4 linked regions of the Homo sapiens genome follow. The protein of the gene in region 1 interacts with the protein of each later gene in a pairwise test. Each region holds a gene or a part of one and is shown on either strand. Other genes may lie near its edges.

Region 1 (4,586 bases):
CAGCAAAGGCATGGAGGTGAGAATCCACAGGCAGGCTCAGGTGTGATGGTAATAGTGGGTCATTTGGGTGTGGTGAGGCTGGAAAGAATGAATGGGGCTGGGCTGTGAAGGCTTAGGGAGTTCTCAGCCTTGTGGGCTGAGCCTATGATGTGGAAAGCTTACAGGAGGGCAGTGTGAGCCCCTGACTGCATGGGGCAAGCTGTCCGGTAAAAGTATAATGCCAGCTACTCATGGAATTTAAAACTTTTCTAGTAGCCACATTAAAACAGAAAAGAAAACAGGTGAAATCGATTTTAATAATAGATTTTATTTAACCCAGTATATTCAAAACATTATTTCAACATATAATCAGCATAAATAACTTTTAATGAGCTATTTGGCATTCTTTCTTTTGGTACTAAGCCTTCAAAATCTTGTGTGTATTTTATACCACAGCACAGCTGATTTTGGACCACAGCCATATTGCAGATGTTCAACACATGGCCGGTGGCTGCTGCATTGGCTGCACAGGGTTAGCAGGTCTGGGGTGATGAGAGTTGAAAGTGATCTTCCTTGTCTTAGACCTTCCCCTGAGAGCCTGAACCAGGCTTCTCGCATCAAACCTTTGAACAAACCTGCCCAACAGCTAATTGGTACCTCAGGGAAAAGAGAAAACCTGGGGGATTTTGTCATGCATGGGTTATATGGTGCAAAAAAAAAAAAAAAGAATTCCCTGGTGTTTCCCAGATTCATGTACATCTCCACAGCACAGACCTCGCTGGACAGCAAGTTACTGTGTACCATTTATTGAGCCTCTGGTATGGCCTGTTCATCCACTGCATACTTCAGATAATACATTATTTCTAATTTTTCGATGTCTGCAAAACAGGTTTCTTACCCATTTTACAGAGGAGGAGAGTCGGGACGTGAGAGATTTAGTACCTTGTCCAAGATCGTTTAACCAGATGGGGCAGAGCTAAGGCACAAACCTGACTTCAAACCTGTGTTCCTACCATTCCTTAATAGGATCTAACACTCTGTGTACATTATAATCTCCAAATCGGAGAAAAGTGCATATAAGAAGTTAGCATGTGTGCATACATGCATATCTATATACATAAGTAGGAAAAGACGGGAAAGTTCTAATCACAGAAAAAAAATCACAAACAATTCTGTGCTGAAGAATGCGTCCCTGCTTTCCTCCTCTCTGCCTCTGGTCTCCTGCCCACACATACTGGGGACCATTTGGAGTGTCCCCATGCTGACCGGTTGCCGTGGGTGTGTGCTGGTGGGGGGTAGGAGCATAGCAGGTGGAGTTTCATTAGAATTAGTAGAACTCAGGCATTTGTGAAGTTTCCGTTTCCCTGGTTAGGGAAGCTAGAGGCCGTGGGGCACTGGCATTTGAGAAGCTGGAGGCTGCAGCTTCCATCCTGCCTGAGCTGCTTGCTGGGCAGAAGCCAGGCTGAGCGTGTGAGCTTCATTTATTTCTCTCTGCAAGGGGCTGCTGAACCATGATGGGGGCACAAAGTGGGCGAAGGGCGGGAAGATAAGTGGGGTACACCCAGGAAGGTGGGGACTGTCCAGGCTTCAGAGTCACAGATGTGGGTTTGACCTTTGACTCTGCCAGTCCTTTCTTTTGTGTCAGTGGCAGGGCCTTGGATTCTTCCTTGTGAAACTGGAGCAGTCATTTTAGGCAGAGCTCTTTCCAGTGTAAGGGACAGAGACCCCTTGGAGCCAGCCAAAGTTGAAAGAGGCGTTCATCACATACAGAGACACGTCGGAGTACCCTGAGGACAGGAACCTGTGTAGAGCTGGCCTCACAGGGGACTCGACTAGAAGGAGGAGAGTGTGGAGGCTTCTCTTGTGGCCTCTCTGGAGTGCTCCCTCCACCCCCAGGCCTCTCTCCCACCTGGCTTCCCTGGTGACTACAACTGTGTGATTGTCCAACTTCAGTGTCCATTCATGTCTCTTAGATTCTTGAAGTAGAGGCCAGTTGGCCCAGCTTCTCCTTTAGGCAAGCCCACATTTCAGAGGTCCTAGCAGATGTGCTTGAGCCAGCCCTGGCCCAGGAGGCCGCCCGGTGCAGCCCCTGGGCCCAGAGCCATGGTGAGGCGATCCTTAGCCCAGAGGGAGGCGGGCATGGACAGTGCTCTGTGGTGGCCTTTCCACCCTCCAAAAGTGATTGCTTCTTGATTTCTCTTTCCCTGAGTCTGCCTCCCAACTTCCCAGACTTTAAGCTGAAACCTTCTCCTATTTCATTGAAAAAAACAGAAGCCTTTAGTCCCCCAACCCTCACAGTACGGAGCCACCCCTCGCCCCCAGTGCCATCTTCCTACCTCCTCTTGTTGAGTTCAAAGGGTCCTTTGCCTCTCGAAGGCAGGTCTGTCCATTCAGCTTCTTGTCTTGCTCCTACAGAGACCTCTTCTTTTTTCAGTGTCAGGGTTTTCTCCCATTCTATTAGACCCCTCAAACATCATTCTCTAGTTTCGCTTATTATTTAAAGAAAAAGAAAGAAAAACCATTTTGGCCACACACATTCTTCCCACAAAACTTCAAAGCAGTTTTCTGCCCTGGTGCTGTTTGGCGTGCTGGCATGCAGACCCGTCATCACAAGCTACCGGAAGACAGAGGGGCTTGCAGCAGAGTGTCAGCCAGCTCTGCACTGAGCACGTGCCACTGACAGTTTTTCCCTGGCCAAATATTCCCGAGGAAGGAAGCAGTGCGTTCGCTTATGTTCTGGCACAAATGCCTCTGTCTTCTCACAGTTGACCTTCTTGACTGTCTTGGTCCCCACGACAGCACGTTCTCTTTTGCCTCACTCCTTTTCTCTGAGTACCCCATGCTTGCTCTTCCCCTTCCTGCCCTGTAGCTGTCAGGGTGAAAGGACTCAGTCCTGGGCCCTTTCTCTGCCTGCCTTGGACATGATCTCTCTTAATCCAATAGTTGATGACTTCCAAATACAGATCTTCAGCCCAGACCCAGCTCCTGACTCATTTATCCAATTGCCTCCTTGATATTATTTCCATGACGATGTCTAAGAAGCATCCTCACATGCAGAGCACTCAATGCGCTTCTTGAGTCCGCCCTTCCCCAGTGCCCATGCCCTCCCTGGCTCAGGCCACTCTGCCCTCTGCCTGGTGCTCTTCCCAGCTTTTTTCCTGGTTGGTCCCTTTTCACCATAGGGTCCCCTCCCCAGTCGTTATCTCAGAGATGCTTTCCCTTGCTGCCCCAGCTCACAGGTGAGTGAGAGCAGAGACGCTGCTCCTCCTGAAGCCTGATGAAGTACCCAGGATTCAGACGGGCATGTTTGCCCTTTAAATCCTGACCAGACCGGCCCTGGCCCCAGCAGCTTGAGGCTTTTTTCCATGCCTCCAGGAACTTCTGAATGCATCTTACAAATGTTGAGAACTGGTCATTGTGGAGGCTGGGGCCTTTGAATGTCAACTACACTTGTGTGGGTGGATGCAGACAGCAGCATGAAGTGCAGGAGGGAAGTCAGGCCCAGCACTGCTAGCCAGCCAGCCAGGGCATGGCTAGCCCCAGGCCTGGGGTGCCACCTGCCAGTCCTGTGAGGAATTTGGGAGAGACAGCAGCGGGCTCCGACAGGCCATTAGCTCCACAAGGAAATGGCCACGAATCAGAGTGCTGCTAATGGCTTGTTTCTTTTTAAACAATTTTTTTGAGGCCGTGTCGGAGAGAATAGGCTGCCATTTGCAGCTTTGAACAGGAATGCTGTCCATTGCTCTGTTAGAAGCCATGGGGTATTTACAAACTGGGTGACTGTTGGCAAGACATTTTTCCCCTTTGCTCCTTGGTTTCCTCCCTTCCGTGATGGGGATAATAAAGCCTGTCTGTCTGACTCACAGGGCCGTTGGGGTGTGTTCCAGGTGTTGGTATGTCAGCTAGCACGAATTCGCCGCCCGCTCTGTGCCAAGCCCTGAGTTATACAGCTTCCTACTCCATCCTCACCACGGTCCCGCGAAGGTGGGCATCACTCAAGGCTGCAGTCAGGCTTAGAGGAGCTCAGTGCACCCGTCCCTGGGCCGCCCACGGGTATGGGTGGAGATGTCTCAGCCCACCTGTACCGCGTCCCTGCGGGCGGGCAGAGCTCTGGGTACAGATGCATTTGTTTTCCAGATTCTCACAGTCATCCTTTAAGACAAGCTGTTCTCATTGTTCAGATGATGGCATGGAGGCCTAGTGGAGTTAAGTGACTTGCTCAAAGCCATTTAGCCTGTAAGTGATTGGTCCTGGATTTGAAGGCAAGTCTGCCTGGAAGTCCTTTGGAAGACTTGAAAAGGAGAATTGGTAAAGCCAGGGGTTCCTATACCTTTCAGGCCTTAAGAAAGTAATAGTAGGTGTTTTTTTTTTTCTCTCTGTTCCTTATTTCATGAAGGAAATTATACATTTGCCCAAATGGCGCTTCCCTTAATATTTGCTGAACCTTAATGTTTGCTTTTGATTGGCATTATGCCATCCTAGCACAATAATATTTGTCATCTCATACCTTAGGAAACTCTGCCTGATTTTGAATGATACAAAAAAGGTTTTGGGGTCTAAATGGAGTGAGAGGAATGGTAAGAGATTAAGTATCCCTCATAAAAACA
Region 2 (4,876 bases), on another chromosome or scaffold:
TATTTCATTTCACTCTTAACTGTGCAGGCAGGGAGAAGTATTGGATGAGAGCTGTAGAAAGGGGTCCATTTAAGAATGAACTATCCAGTCTTGTTTAAATGCCATTAGTGGGGAAAGAGCAAGTACAGAAGGAAATATTGAAGATATGGGAAAGGAAGATACCTAAGAAGACATTAAGGAGGGAATCTAAATAAAGCTCTTGTCATAGGACAGGAGAGAGATTTTCCATTGAAATGTTCCCATTTCCATGCCTTTCATTCTCTCTTATGCTTTTTGTAGTCTGGCTTCTAATTCTACCACTCTAGAATTACTCATGCAGAAGATGGTTAATAAGCACATTGTCTCAGTTTCATGGATATTTTCCCCTTTTCTGTAGCACTCAGTGCACTGGTTCTTACTTTGACTTCTGAGACATCTCTTCTGATTTTCTTCTTACCTCCTTGAGTATTTCTTGCCTAGCTTCTTCATGAATTTCTTATTCCATGAACTCTTCTTCCTAATTAGGACTCTTCTACAAGCTAATGTCTGGAGAGCAGGGCCTCTGTCTTACTCATCTTTGGTCCCTAAAGGCCCAATCTGATTCCTAGAATACAACGAGATGCATTGAATTTTTGTGGAAGAGAATGACTTTCACCTCCCAACTGACAGTGTTTTCTGGGCCCTGCTTTCACTGTCCATGTTCCCTGGGTGATCCATCCAAAATTCATTTCCTTAATGGCCACCTCTAAGCTGTTAATTACTTTCTGAGTTACAGACATGTATAGCCAGCCAACTTCTTACGGGATAGATGATTCAGACTTGTTTTCAAGTTTAAGCTTGAAACAGTATTTTTATCCCTGGACAAATCTTGCTGTACTCTCTTTATAAGGAGAATAACACCATCATCTACACAGTTTCTCAAACTAGAAACCTAAGTCATCCCATGTCTCTCTTTTGCTTACCATTCACATACAGTCATCCAATTTCAATTGCTAAATATTTCTTGACTATATTGCTGCTTTATGAGCTCAATTGACCTTACATTAGTTTAGGTTCACATCACTAGATTATTGTGCTATTGTTTCTAACTTTTCTCCACTTCACCTGTCTCTCTTTCAATTTACCTTCAACACTGAACAGATGGTGTTCCCTCTGAGATGTAAATCTATCATACTATGTGTGTGCTTATAATCCTTTATTGCTACACTGTCCAATATGGTAGCCAGTAGGTACAGGTGGCTATTTAAAAACTTATGTTACCTGGGCACAGTGGCTTACGTTTGTAATCCCAGCACTTTGGGAGGCCAAGGTGGGAGGATCTCTTGAGTCCAGGAGTTTGAGACCAGCTTGGGCAATATAGTGAGATCCTGCTTATTATATTTATATATATATATGTGTGTGTGTGTGTGTGTATAATATTCACACACATGTGTAGGGGGTATATGTGTGTGTGTATATATATGTGTGTGTGTAATATATATGTATATACACATACTGGGTATAGCAGTGCAGGCCTGTAAGTTCCAGCTGTTTGGGAGGCTGAAGTGGGAGGATCACTCAAACCTAGGATATTAAGACTGCAGTGTGTGATGATCACACTACTGCACTCCACCTTTCATGACAGAGCAAGACCTTGTCTCAAACAAAGTTAATGAAAAATAAAATGTAAAATTCCAGTCCATTAGATATACTAGCTGCATTTCTTTTATTTATTTAGAGACAAGGTCTGGCTCAGCTCACTGCAACCTCTGCCTCCCGGGCTCAAGCCATCCTCCCACCTCAGCCTCCCAAGTAGGTGGGACTACAGGCGCACGCCACCACACCCAGCTATTTATTGTATTTTTTATAGAAATTTGGTTTTGCCATGTTGCCTAAGCTGGTCTCGAACTCTTGAGCTCAAGTGATCTGCCTGCCTTGGCCTCCTAAAGTGCTGGGATTACAGGTGTGAGCCACTTCACCCGCCAACTAGCCACATTTTGAGGGCTAAATAATCACATGTTGTTAGTGGCAACTGTATTGGACAGAACAATGCAGAATATGTCCATCACTGCAGAAAGTTCTATTGGGTAGCACAATTCTATGGCATTTCATGGGATCAATGTTCATACTCTTTAGTATTTAATTAGCTCCTTAATCAGATTTTTTGGTGTTTTTGACATGGAGTCTCCCTCTGTCACCCAGGCTGGAGGGGAGTGGCACAGTCTTAGCTCACTGCAACCTCCACCTCATGGATTCAGACGATTCTCCTGCCTCAGCCTCCCCGAGTGGCTGGGACTACCGGCCATCATTTTTTATTTTATCTTGTCTTCCAGTCTCTAGTGAACTATATTTTTATGCAAGTACATTTTTCAAGGATGGAATTCTTTGCATTCTTTCTTTATTCTCTTGTTTAACTCCTGGTTGTCTTTGAAGATGAAATGGAACATGTACTCTACTGGGAAATCTCTGTGATTCCAGACCATTTTGAGAATACCTGTGTTATGACATTATTTCCAGGGGACTATAATAGGTGGTTCTGTTTCTGTCTTCTTTTCTACACTGTTTGCTTTTTATACCTTATTTAGAAAATAGTAGATTTTCACGTTTTCTGAATTAATATCAAAAGGAAATAAGAAATAATGTATCAGGCTGGGCATGGTGGCTTATGCCTGTAATCCCAGCATTTTGGGATTCTGAGGCAGGCAAACTGCTTGAATCCAGGGGTTGAGACCAGCCTGGGCAATATAGTGAGACTTCATCCCTACTAAAATGAAAAAAAGAAAAAATTAGCTAGTTGTGGTGACCTGTGGCCCCAGCTACTCAAGAAACTGAAGTGAATCACTGGAGTCCAGGAAGTCAAGGTCGTACCCCTGCATTTGTACCCCTGCATCCCGGAAACAGTTGAGGCCAAGGTCATACCCCTGCATTTGTACCCCTGCATTTGTACTCCTGCATCCTCAAACAGATGAGATCCTGGAGAGAGAGAGAGAGAGAGAGAGAGATCGAGAGACAGAGAGAGAAGGAGAGGAGAGAGAGGGGGAAAAGAGGAGAAAGAAAGATAAAGGAAAAGAATAAAAAAGAAATAATGTATGTGAAATCAAAACATGTAAATGAAGATTAAAAATGTGAGGTAGCTGTGTGAGAGTGGTGTTAACATCAATCCTGCAATAATGTAGTCATTTTAACTCATTTCAATTCCATACTGGAGCCTCATGATATATGCTTGTGCAGAGAAGTCAGTTTTTTTAACAGGTGTATATTTGCATGTATTTACCCAAGATAATGTGCAGATTATTCACCAGTGTATATCTAACATGACTGCAGTCCTCAGGGTATTAGAGTACAACCAGAAAATGCATTCCTCTGTAATTGATAGAGGTTGAATGTGGGACAAAATGGAGAAACTAGATTGAGATGCTTCTGGTTAGTTATTGCAAAGTTTTTCTGAAAACAAAATCAATAGCATTTGAACATTACTATCAACTGGTAGCAATGCTCAGGTGGTATCTACCAATACACTCTACCAGTGTTTCTGGACCCATTGCTACAGCAAGCGTCTATTCTGACTAGATGGTCCTTATGCCCTGCCAGTTGTTAAATAGCTAAATATCTTGAGTATCACCTCTACTCCTACACTTCAAAGTTCCTGAGTTCTTTTGTCATGATCTCCAGTGCCCATTGTAGTATTTCTCTTCTATATTATTGCATTTGATTCTAATTTTATCTTTGGTGAAGACTACATTTAAAAAATTACTTAGGTTTGATCTTTTCTAAAATATGAGAAATATGGTAAAATGTTGAAATTGGGTTGAAAGATATGTTGGTAATTTGCATTGTTCAGTATGATATAAAACATATCTAGAGAAATACTTAAATCATAAATTGAGAATCTTATAGTAATTGAAGTTACTTTCTTAAGAAATCAGGTTTTCCTTGGCGTTTTTGGATAGATTTTTATTGCTATATTCTTTAATAATCCTTTTTTTTTCTGGAAGAAGAAAGTGGTATAGAGTTGAAAATTCATAGAACATGAAGATATTGACTGTTGTGAGATTTTGGTTGGCATGTAATGTCAATTCTTTCTGTGTAGCCAAACTGTATTATGTTTTTGTAATGTAAAAGGGGTAATATATACTATGGTTTGACTTTAGTTATACTGTAATTTTATGTATTCACCAGTTATCTCAATAGTAAAGCAAAACATCCAAAAGATAAAACTGTCTCTATGTTTCTATGCTAATTAATTTACATACATATGAGTATATGTGTAATTTTCCATGCATGCCTTTATTCCTCTAGTTAATATGATAGTTTTAGTTTTAACTTTCTTTTATTACTGAAATCTATAGAACATAAATTCACATTATTAATATATGTTACATGTTAATAAAACACATGACATAATTATAACCTTGTGTTATCACTTATAATTGTTTAAAGGAACTATTATTTTTCCTGTCATTATGTATACTGTAGACACCTTAAATTTATATAGATGTATACAAAAAACCTTATAAAATTATTTGATAAGTGTTATTTCAGCCTCAACTCTGAGGTGAGTAGATAATTTTTCAAATTAGGAAACTGATATGAGAAGCTACGTATTTTAATCAGGATAGTACAAGCTACAGTTGAACAAACAACTTCAATCTAAATGACTTAATACAATAAAATTCTATTTTTCCTTTAAGAAAATTCAGCTGCAGATTTGGGCTATCCTCCAACACAGTTGTCCTCCATGTGGTAACAGCAATTTAGCTGGCTTTAATGTTTGGTCTTGCCATGCCAACATATGTCCTTCACAGTTGTCAGAGCTTGGTGAGAGACACCAGAGAATGCACAGGAGCTTTCAAATGCCTTAACCTAGAAAAGGCACAGTTACATCTGTTCATGTTTTATTGACCAGTCCTAGTCATGA
Region 3 (4,876 bases), on another chromosome or scaffold:
TTTCCCGAATTTTTCACCTGAGTTGGTTGTTTTCCATTATTAGGGAGCCTCAGAAGCTTTTGCTTTCTGCTTTGTATGCAGTCAAATCTGCTGATCTCTCTCTGTCCCTCTTTTTTTTTTTTTTTTTTTTTTTGTTCTGATTTCTGCCTTTGGAGCCGTGTTTAGGTCATAATCAAAGGCCATGCCTCAGTGTCTCAGGGAAGGTATGTTTGCTTTTATTGTCTTCTAACACTTATTTCTTTTTTTAATGCTCCAATCCTCAACATCTAGAGTGTACTTCATGGAGGGATCCAGCTCTGCGTTGTCCCCCGGTCTGGATGACCCCATGTGACCTCTAGAGCATCCAATGGCCTTTGGAGCTGCACCCCACCCCTGTGCTCCCCAATGCTGTGCCAGCTCCTCACTCCAGGGTCCTGCCCAGCCCTGCCCTGCGTGCCCACCCCCCCCCCCCCGCCATGCCTCATACCTGCCTGTCTCCCCAGGCACGTGCGCTAAGCTGCGGCTACCCCCGCAAGCAACCTTCCAAGTCCTTCGTGGCAATGGTGCTTCCGTGGGGACCGTGCTCATGTTCCGCTGCCCCTCCAACCACCAGATGGTGGGGTCTGGGCTCCTCACCTGCACCTGGAAGGGGAGCATCGCTGAGTGGTCTTCAGGGTCCCCAGTGTGCAAACGTAAGGACCCCTCTCTCAGCTCGGTGGCTCTGGGGGTGGGGGATGGCCCCAAATCCTGTCATGGGGATGGTGTGGGTGGGGATGGCGTGGGTGTCTACTCACAAGCAGCTAGGCCAGTGTGTAGGGTCCCATTCCCAACACTGACAGCTTGCTTACATGTCAGCAGCCGGCTGTAGGCCCTCAGCCCTCCCAGTGCCATGTTGGCAGCACGGACCGAAAACCTAGTAGCGGGCCTCCAATCCTGGCTCTGCTACCGACTCAGCCCCTCACCGCCAAGAGGCTGTGCATGCTCTCTGAGCCAGCACGTTTTCATCTGTTAAGCAGGAAACTATGTTTGTTCATTCATTCATTCATTCATTCATTCATTCATGTACAGGTGCACATGGCCAACTTTAATAGGATATTTCACGTATCAGGAATCTTAAGTACTGGCAACACGGAAGGTCATAACGTGCCTGGCCCTGGAGCTCCCAGTCTGTGGGAGGCAATGGTTTTCTGGTTGTATTTCTTGTACAGGTGTTGAAAGGTCCACAAGATAGTCCCTTTTCAGTGCCCAGCATGACATTTCCAAAATGAAGCTATGTGTGTTATGTTCATGTGTTTTGTGCATAAAAAGGGCTCAGAGTCAAAATAGTTTGGCAGATTCTGGGTTTTTATGCTGCAGAACTTCTCAGAGCCTTTAAAATGTTCACGTGCTAGGTGATTCTCTGAGGATGCGAGTGTTAGGATTAGATTCTGAAAGGCAGAAAACCCAAAATACTAGGATTAACTATGATGGAGCTCAACCTTCAGGGTGGGCAGGCAGATCTGTATAGGCTCCATGGCAGTGGGAGCCAGGCCCCTTCCCTGGCATGGCTCTGCTGGGCATGGCCTCAGCCTCATGATTCAAGATGGCAGCAGCTATGTTCCAGGCAGCTGTTATGGGGTGAGGGGCCCTGGGGCCAAAGAGCAGGCCCCAGTGTCTCAGGGAAGGTTCTTAGAAGTTGCCCCACATCACTTCTTATCTTCCACTGGCCAGAACATGGTCCTGTGACCACTGGGAAATGTAGTCTCCATTTTGGGTGGCCAGGATCCACTAGGGAGCATGGGAAATGGGGCAGGGGACAGGGCCATGTTCTCTACGTGGGGGAGTAAACGGTGTTGCTCAAATTAGGATTCCGAGGCCTTTTTTAGCCAGAACATCCAGTAGAATCTGATGGAACTAGTTTTTGGAGCATAGCTGAGGTCACACAGCAGATACATAGTATTTTGGACCTTCCTGGAAAGTGACCTGAGAAGGCATGTAGGCCCCCTGAAGAATGTTGCCACCTTGGGGCATTGTGAAAACCCAGACCATGGGCTGGGCAAGGCCTCCTCAGTACTGTCTATTGTCACCTCCTCTCTGTGGCCCACCCTTCCTTCATTCCTCAGGCAGGACTTCAGTGGGTAGGAGCCAAGGAGGCCATCACTCTGAACTCCCTGCCAGAACTTCTGTAATTGACCACTCTGCAGACTTCTACATACCCTACAAAACCCTGCTCAAATACCCTCTTCAGTTAGCCACTCTGCACACTCCTACACACCCTGGAAAACCCTGCTTAAATACCCCCTTTAAATAGCCACTCTGCATACTCCTACACACCCTGCTCAAATAACCTGCTTCTTGGGGAGAGTCTTCTCTGATAGTCCCACCTCCAAATATAGTTTGCACAGATCTTTGCCTCAGCCCCCAGCACCTCACTGCCCCCTTACCATGCAAACAGGGCTCACTGAGGGCTGCCCAGGCCCTGTCTACACCCAGGCCCTACCCGTACCACCCCTGAGACCCCCAACCCCTGGGCCAAGCAAATCTGGGCAAACCTCGCCCAGGAGCTGGTGGTTGTCTCCCACACAGTGGTGCCACCACACGAGACCTTTGGCTTCAAGGTGGCCGTGATCGCCTCCATTGTGAGCTGTGCCATCATCCTGCTCATGTCCATGGCCTTCCTCACCTGCTGCCTCCTCAAGTGCGTGAAGAAGAGCAAGCGGCGGCGCTCCAACAGGTACGGTGGCCTCATGATCTCAGGGTCCTCCCGGGAGGCGCCTCTTGGCACCATGGGAGGAGGAAAGGACAGAGTGTTTCAAGGGAACCCCGGCACTGCCCTCAGGGCACCCGTTCCTACCACTGCTGCTCTGGGCCTGCGTCTCCCCCCCAAGTGCTGCTCCCGGCCCACGCAGCAGCCAGGGGCAGCATCACAGCTGGGGGACATGTGGGCCCCCAAGGCCCTGCTCTTAGGCCAGGCTATGGGTTCACGGGGGATTATTTTATTTATTTATTTTTTTTGAGACGGAGTCTTGCTCTGTCACCCAGGCGACAGAGTACAGTAGCGTGATCTCAGCTCACTGCAACCTCCGCCTCCTGGGTTAAAGCAATTCTCCTGCCTCAGCCTTCCTAGAAGCTGGGATTATAGGTATGTACCACCACACTCGGCTAATTTTTTGTATTTTTAGTGGAGATGGGGTTTCACCATATTGGCCAGGCTGGTCTCAAACTCCTGACCTCTGGTGATCCGCCCAGTGATCTGCCTCCCAAAGTGCTGGGATTACAGGCGTGAGCCACCGCGCCCGGCCCGTTTTATTCTTAAACCTGCACACATATGCAGTATGTACTCTGCTGTGTTAACGGCCTGCAGGGCTGCCACACACGCCCCCTAAACCTTGAGAGGGAGTCACTGTCACTGCAGATGGAGGGCTGGTTAACCACAGCCCACCAGCGAAGTCCGGCTGTCTGTCAGGTTTTTTCCCCATGGTAATTTATTATTATTTTTTGTTTTTATTTTTTATTGTGGTAAAATATCAATACATAAAACTTAACCTTTTTTTTTTTGAGACGGAGTCTCACTCTGTCGCCCAGGCTGGAGTGCAGTGGCTCCATCTCAGCTCACTGCAAGCTCCACCTCCTGGGATCACGCCATTCTCCTGCCTCAGCCTCCCGAGTAGCTGGGACTACAAGCGCCCGCCACCATGCTCAGCTAATTTTTTTTTGTATTTTTAGTACAGACGGGGTTTCACCGTGTTAGCCAGGATGGTCTCGAGCTCCTGACCTCATGATCCACCTGCCACGGCCTCCCAAAGTGCTGGGATTACAGGCATGAGCCACTGCGCCTGGCCAAAACTTAACCTTTTTAACGTCTACAGTTCAGTAGCATTAAGTATGTTCACGATGTAGTGCAGCCATTAGCACTGTCCAGCCCTAGAACTTTCCACCACCTGTATTTGTAAGTAAAGTTTTATTGGAACACAGCCATGTTCATTGTCTACTGGTGTGTGGCTACTTTTGGGCTGCAATTGCAGAGTTTAGCTGTGGGAGAAATCATGTGTCTCACCACACCAAAAACATCCACTGCCCAGCTCTTTGAGAGGTTTGCCAGCCTGCACTGGTCCTGCAGACGGTGCCCTGGGCCTACATGGAGCCTGTTTCCACCACCGTCAGGGATACACCTGCATGCTCAGAGTCCTTCCTCCCAAACTCTCCTCCAGGTCAGCCCAGCTGTGGTCCCAGCTGAAAGATGAGGACTTGGAGACGGTGCAGGCCGCATACCTTGGCCTCAAGCACTTCAACAAACCCGTGAGCGGGCCCAGCCAGGCGCACGACAACCACAGCTTCACCACGTGAGCCCGGGTCTGGGTAGGGGACATGCTGGGGGACAAGGGGTCCAGCTTGGTCAGGCCCCGGGCCACCTGCTGCTCCCACACGCTGAGAGCCTGCTGCTCCCACACGCCTAGCCCACCCAGAACCTTAACTCCCATCTCTAAAACAAGAGGCTGGTGGTCCTTGTAGCACTCTGTCCTGACTCTGACATTCTAGGACTCAGAACTGCCCCCAGCAGTGTTTTCATCTGGAGGGTCCACCCTCCAGGGAAGCTGAAGCTTCTACACACCTGTGTTCCCTCCACCTACACCCAGCAGGGCTCTGCACTGAGCTGCAGTCACTTGCTCTCCCTCCCGTGCTCTGTCCCTCTCCTTTCTCTCTCTCTTAATACACACATACATTTTTTTGCCCTGAACCAATATAAGGACATTCTTTTTCTGAGTCCAGAAATTTAATACTGATTGGCCAGGCTTGGTGGCTCACACCTGTAATCCCAGCAGTTTGGGAGGCTGAGGTGGGAGGATCACCTGAGGTCAGGAGTTCGAGGCCAACATGGTGAAATCCCGTCTCTACTAAAAACACAAACATTACCTGG
Region 4 (4,876 bases), on another chromosome or scaffold:
CCAGATGGCTCCTCCCATCACAGATTTGACAGTTGATGCTGGCTGTTGGCTGGGAGCTCAGCTGGGGATGAAAACACAAGGCCTCCGCATGTGTTTGGGAACCAAGGCGAAAAGCAGCAGGCTTCTTAGACCTCACCTGTCCAGCGTCTCTTCCGCTGCCTAGACTGCTTCTGTTGTCAAGCCACTAAAGCCCAGATTCCAAGGGAAGAGGATTAGATGACACCTTGATGTGAGCAGTTGCATAAGAAGGGAGGGAATGGAGGATGGCTATCTTTGGAGACCATCTACCACAGTGCTTCTGGGGAATCTACACAGAGAGCATGTCTTATAACTTGCACAGTGGTACCATATAGACTAGTGGAAGACCTGTTGACCAGGCTTAGTCCCTGCCTTCAGGGAGCTCCTTGTATGATGGAGGAGATACAGCTCATGTCATCATAATTGCTTTATCAATGATCATGATCAGAGTATGATCAAGGGAAATATCATTACTTAAGTACTGACAATAGATCAATATCAATTTATCTTAGAGAACGGGCTGTGTGTGTGTTGGAAGCAAGGCCCACTGGTTTGACCACCCCTCCTGTTCTTGGCCTCACTCTCTCCTTCCTCAGGATATGGCAATGTGGCTCCCAAGACCCCCGCCGGTCGCCTCTTCTGTGTTTTCTATGGTCTCTTCGGGGTGCCGCTCTGCCTGACGTGGATCAGTGCCCTGGGCAAGTTCTTCGGGGGACGTGCCAAGAGACTAGGGCAGTTCCTTACCAAGAGAGGTGTGAGTCTGGTATGTCCCCTACCCTGGGTGTTGGGCAGAGATGGGGGAACCATGACAGGTGAGGGGAGGACAGGAGGCCTCTAGGAATTGGACCAAGGGTGTAAGGACAGATGGCAAGAGGATAGTTTCAGAGCTCCTTGCCCTCCCGGGTCAGGCTGGGTACCCAGCTAGCTTCTCCTCTAGCTGCCTCCCTGGCCCTCTGGGTGCCTTTGCTGGGTTTCCAAGTCTCCACTATTCTCTGACTTGGCCTCCTGCTCCCCATCAGCGGAAGGCGCAGATCACGTGCACAGTCATCTTCATCGTGTGGGGCGTCCTAGTCCACCTGGTGATCCCACCCTTCGTATTCATGGTGACTGAGGGGTGGAACTACATCGAGGGCCTCTACTACTCCTTCATCACCATCTCCACCATCGGCTTCGGTGACTTTGTGGCCGGTGAGTCCCTGCCTCTGCCTCCCACCTCTTTTTCTGCTTCTTTGGTTTCAGTGCAACAGACCTATGTTGGGGGTGCCCTAGGTAGGGTTCCATGTTCTGGGCACTTCTCTTACCCAGTGGGATTCTCAACCCACTCTGCCATTTGCAAGAGGAAACTAAGACCCAGAGTAATGACAAAAAACTCTTTTCTCTCTGGTTCCCTTTCTCAGACATGGCCTTTTTCCTCCTCCTTTCCTCTCTGCTCAGTCTCTGATCTCCTCTCCCTCAGTTCTCCCATGACTCCTGAGCTTGGCTTCATGGGGGACTTGCAAGTAGGGCCTTCTGCCTGCACGGTTGGTACCTGCTACCCAGGGAGCCCCTGAGCCCACCAGCACCCACTCCACGCCCTCAGCAGCCTTTCATCTTTCACAAGAGTGGAGGGAGGTGTCCTGAAGGCATGGCTCAGAGGCCTGGGGCTTTGTTCCTGCTGTAGCAGCTTAAAGACAAGGGAGGCCTTCTCCCCAGCTGCCCTGCCCCCAGCCCTGACACTCCCTCCTACTCCTCCCCTGCTTAATCCAGGGAAGTGATGAGGTTCTTTGGCCCCTTTGTCTGAAGGCCTGTTACCAGCTGGCCCCAGCCACACATGTACTTGTGTTTGTGGCCTGCACAGCATCTTGGTTCTTAATCTTCTTGACACCCTGTTTGACCCTGTTGACCCACCACCCCAGTGACCTCAACTTCTGCTCCAGAGGCCTCTGTTCTGTACCCCCTCCCTTTTGCCCAGAGGGCAGTGGGAGGCCACTAGCCTTGTGCTTGATGTATGTGGCATCTGGGAGCAGTTGGCTGAGTTGGGGGAGGAACAGGAAAGAGAGGCACAAACACTCCCCTGACCCTGCCAAGTCCGGGCCTGCTGTCCTGGGCAGTACATGTGGACAAGGCACAACCCTGCCATTGTCCAGCCCTTGAGGCCCAGAGCAGGCTAAGGAGGTGCCTCTGGTATTAGGGAAATACAGATGTACACTTAGCCATACTTTCTCAGCACCAGCAAGACACCAAACCCTGCCTCAGCTTTCTCTTCTGTAAAATTAGTAAAAATAATAATTACTATTCATGAGTGTTAAGGGTAGGGCCTGGCTATATCAGTGTGTGCCCTCATTACTGTCATCATGAAACTCTGCTTGTGATTGAGAGCCTTGAGCAGGATTAACAGGACCACTCAGGGCACCTGCTATCTGAGCCCGGTCGTGGGAGGAGAACTGACCGGGCTACAGCACCTGGAGGAACCTCTAGTCTGATGAGAGAGGTAGCCCCCTTCCTCCAGGTCCCTTCTGTAAGTTGCTCTTGTATCTAGTCGAGGGGGCAAATGGAATACAGGTCAACATGCCTGTACATGTAGTCGTCAACGACATTTCAAATAATCCTGGAGTGTAGGGGGAACCTTCAGAGCTGTAGGGGGTAAGCCAAGAAGGCTCCCTGCAGCAGGAGGGGGATGTGGAGCAGACAGAGCCCTCCTCCAGGTCAAGGGAGAGCTGATCTGAGGAAGTCAGGGAGGCAGACCAGACCTTCAATGAAAATAAAAATGGTTCAGCGTTTCTTGCCACGGTGGGTGCTTCCTGGGTCATCTCAACCTAACCACCAGCCTTGTTTGTAATCCACCAGTGTGAGTCTAGCCCCAGCTTGGAGGGTGCTGGGGGCTCCCTTGTGTAATATCCATCCATTCCGTTTTTAAGTGAACTGTATCATATACGCAGAACAGCTGGGGATGGTAGAAGAATTAACAGAAAGGCAAATACTCATGAACTGTTTCTTGACCTGTGTGTCGGTTACATTGCCAGTCCCCCAAAGCCCCTTTAGCTTCCTTCAAAGAGTCACTGTCTTGACTTTTTTTTTTTTTTTTTTTTTTTTTGAGACGGAGTCTCTGTCTGCTGCCCAGGCTAGAGTGGCAGTGGTGTGATCTTGGCTCACTGCAACCTCTGCCTCCCGGGTTCAAGCAGTTCTCCTGCTTCAGCCTCCTGAGTAGCTGGCCCGCCACCATACCTGGCTAATTTTTGTATTGTTAGTGGAGCTGGGGTTTTACCATGTTGGTCAGACTGGTTTCGAACTCCTGACCTCAAGTGATCCACCTGCCTTGACCTCCCAAAGTGCTGGGATTGCAGACGTGAGCCACCATGCCTGGCCTGTCTTGACGTTTCTAGTTGAGGAAACCGAGACTCAGAGACAGGCTGGAGACTGGGATGGGGTCATGAATGATGGCAGGCCCAAGCCCTTGAGGAAGATGGGATAGTCCAGGGTCTAGAACAGGCCCCTTTCTATCCCACTGCACCCCCGTCCTGTGCTCTGGCCTGACCCCTGCTCAGATCACACAGCATTGGCCATTGCACATTTCCCGGGCCCTGCTAACTCTTCCTGACCTCTGGACTGCCTGTCCGCTCAGGTGTGAACCCCAGCGCCAACTACCACGCCCTGTACCGCTACTTCGTGGAGCTCTGGATCTACTTGGGGCTGGCCTGGCTGTCCCTTTTTGTCAACTGGAAGGTGAGCATGTTTGTGGAAGTCCACAAAGCCATTAAGAAGCGGCGGCGGCGACGGAAGGAGTCCTTTGAGAGCTCCCCACACTCCCGGAAGGCCCTGCAGGTGAAGGGGAGCACAGCCTCCAAGGACGTCAACATCTTCAGCTTTCTTTCCAAGAAGGAAGAGACCTACAACGACCTCATCAAGCAGATCGGGAAGAAGGCCATGAAGACAAGCGGGGGTGGGGAGACGGGCCCGGGCCCAGGGCTGGGGCCTCAAGGCGGTGGGCTCCCAGCACTGCCCCCTTCCCTGGTGCCCCTGGTAGTCTACTCCAAGAACCGGGTGCCCACCTTGGAAGAGGTGTCACAGACACTGAGGAGCAAAGGCCACGTATCAAGGTCCCCAGATGAGGAGGCTGTGGCACGGGCCCCTGAAGACAGCTCCCCTGCCCCCGAGGTGTTCATGAACCAGCTGGACCGCATCAGCGAGGAATGCGAGCCATGGGACGCCCAGGACTACCACCCACTCATCTTCCAGGACGCCAGCATCACCTTCGTGAACACGGAGGCTGGCCTCTCAGACGAGGAGACCTCCAAGTCCTCGCTAGAGGACAACTTGGCAGGGGAGGAGAGCCCCCAGCAGGGGGCTGAAGCCAAGGCGCCCCTGAACATGGGCGAGTTCCCCTCCTCCTCCGAGTCCACCTTCACCAGCACTGAGTCTGAGCTCTCTGTGCCTTACGAACAGCTGATGAATGAGTACAACAAGGCTAACAGCCCCAAGGGCACATGAGGCAGGGCCGGCTCCCCACCCCACCTTTGATGGCCTCTTCCCCCCTCACCCTAGGGTGTCCCGAGATGACCGGGACGCCTGGCCCCTGGTGGGGGGGCAGCCTCGGAACTGGGAGTGGGGGGCCAGGGGCCTTCCTAACCTTCCATCATCCTCAGCTAGATGTATGCCCGGGACAGGGCCTCTGTTCTCCAGCTGAACCATACCCTGGCTGTGGGGGCATCTGTCCTGAGCTTGGCTGGTGTATCTCACAATGCAAAGACATGCTGGCTGGCGGGACAGGTGGGCAGGACTGACCCTGAGGAGGCCTTGCCTGCAGGGTCTTTGTCTCACCATTTGGTGGAGTATCACACGGTTCTCTGAGGTCTGGGGCCTCAGCTGTTTAAGTTTACCG

Evidence for each region.
Region 2: the proteins of SMCO4 (region 1) and FAM174A interact in binary tests that used the Homo sapiens proteins (3 or more experiments, as listed by UniProt).
Region 3: the proteins of SMCO4 (region 1) and SUSD3 interact in binary tests that used the Homo sapiens proteins (3 or more experiments, as listed by UniProt).
Region 4: the proteins of SMCO4 (region 1) and KCNK5 interact in binary tests that used the Homo sapiens proteins (3 or more experiments, as listed by UniProt).

The regions. Positions count from the first base shown.
Region 1 is NC_000011.10:93,480,808-93,485,393, reverse strand, and holds part of SMCO4 (single-pass membrane and coiled-coil domain-containing protein 4), read left to right. Parts: intron 1-4,586.
Region 2 is NC_000005.10:100,541,475-100,546,350, forward strand, and holds part of FAM174A (membrane protein FAM174A precursor), read left to right. Parts: intron 1-4,876.
Region 3 is NC_000009.12:93,075,302-93,080,177, forward strand, and holds part of SUSD3 (sushi domain-containing protein 3), read left to right. Parts: intron 1-134; exon of another isoform or gene 135-181; coding exon of another isoform or gene 182-203; intron 204-482; coding exon 483-671; intron 672-2,544; coding exon 2,545-2,692; intron 2,693-4,169; coding exon 4,170-4,301; intron 4,302-4,876. UniProt on the Homo sapiens protein: May play a role in breast tumorigenesis by promoting estrogen-dependent cell proliferation, cell-cell interactions and migration.
Region 4 is NC_000006.12:39,190,499-39,195,374, reverse strand, and holds part of KCNK5 (potassium channel subfamily K member 5), read left to right. Parts: intron 1-614; coding exon 615-781; intron 782-1,037; coding exon 1,038-1,206; intron 1,207-3,619; coding exon 3,620-4,485; 3' UTR 4,486-4,876. UniProt on the Homo sapiens protein: K(+) channel that conducts voltage-dependent outward rectifying currents upon membrane depolarization. Voltage sensing is coupled to K(+) electrochemical gradient in an 'ion flux gating' mode where outward but not inward ion flow opens the gate.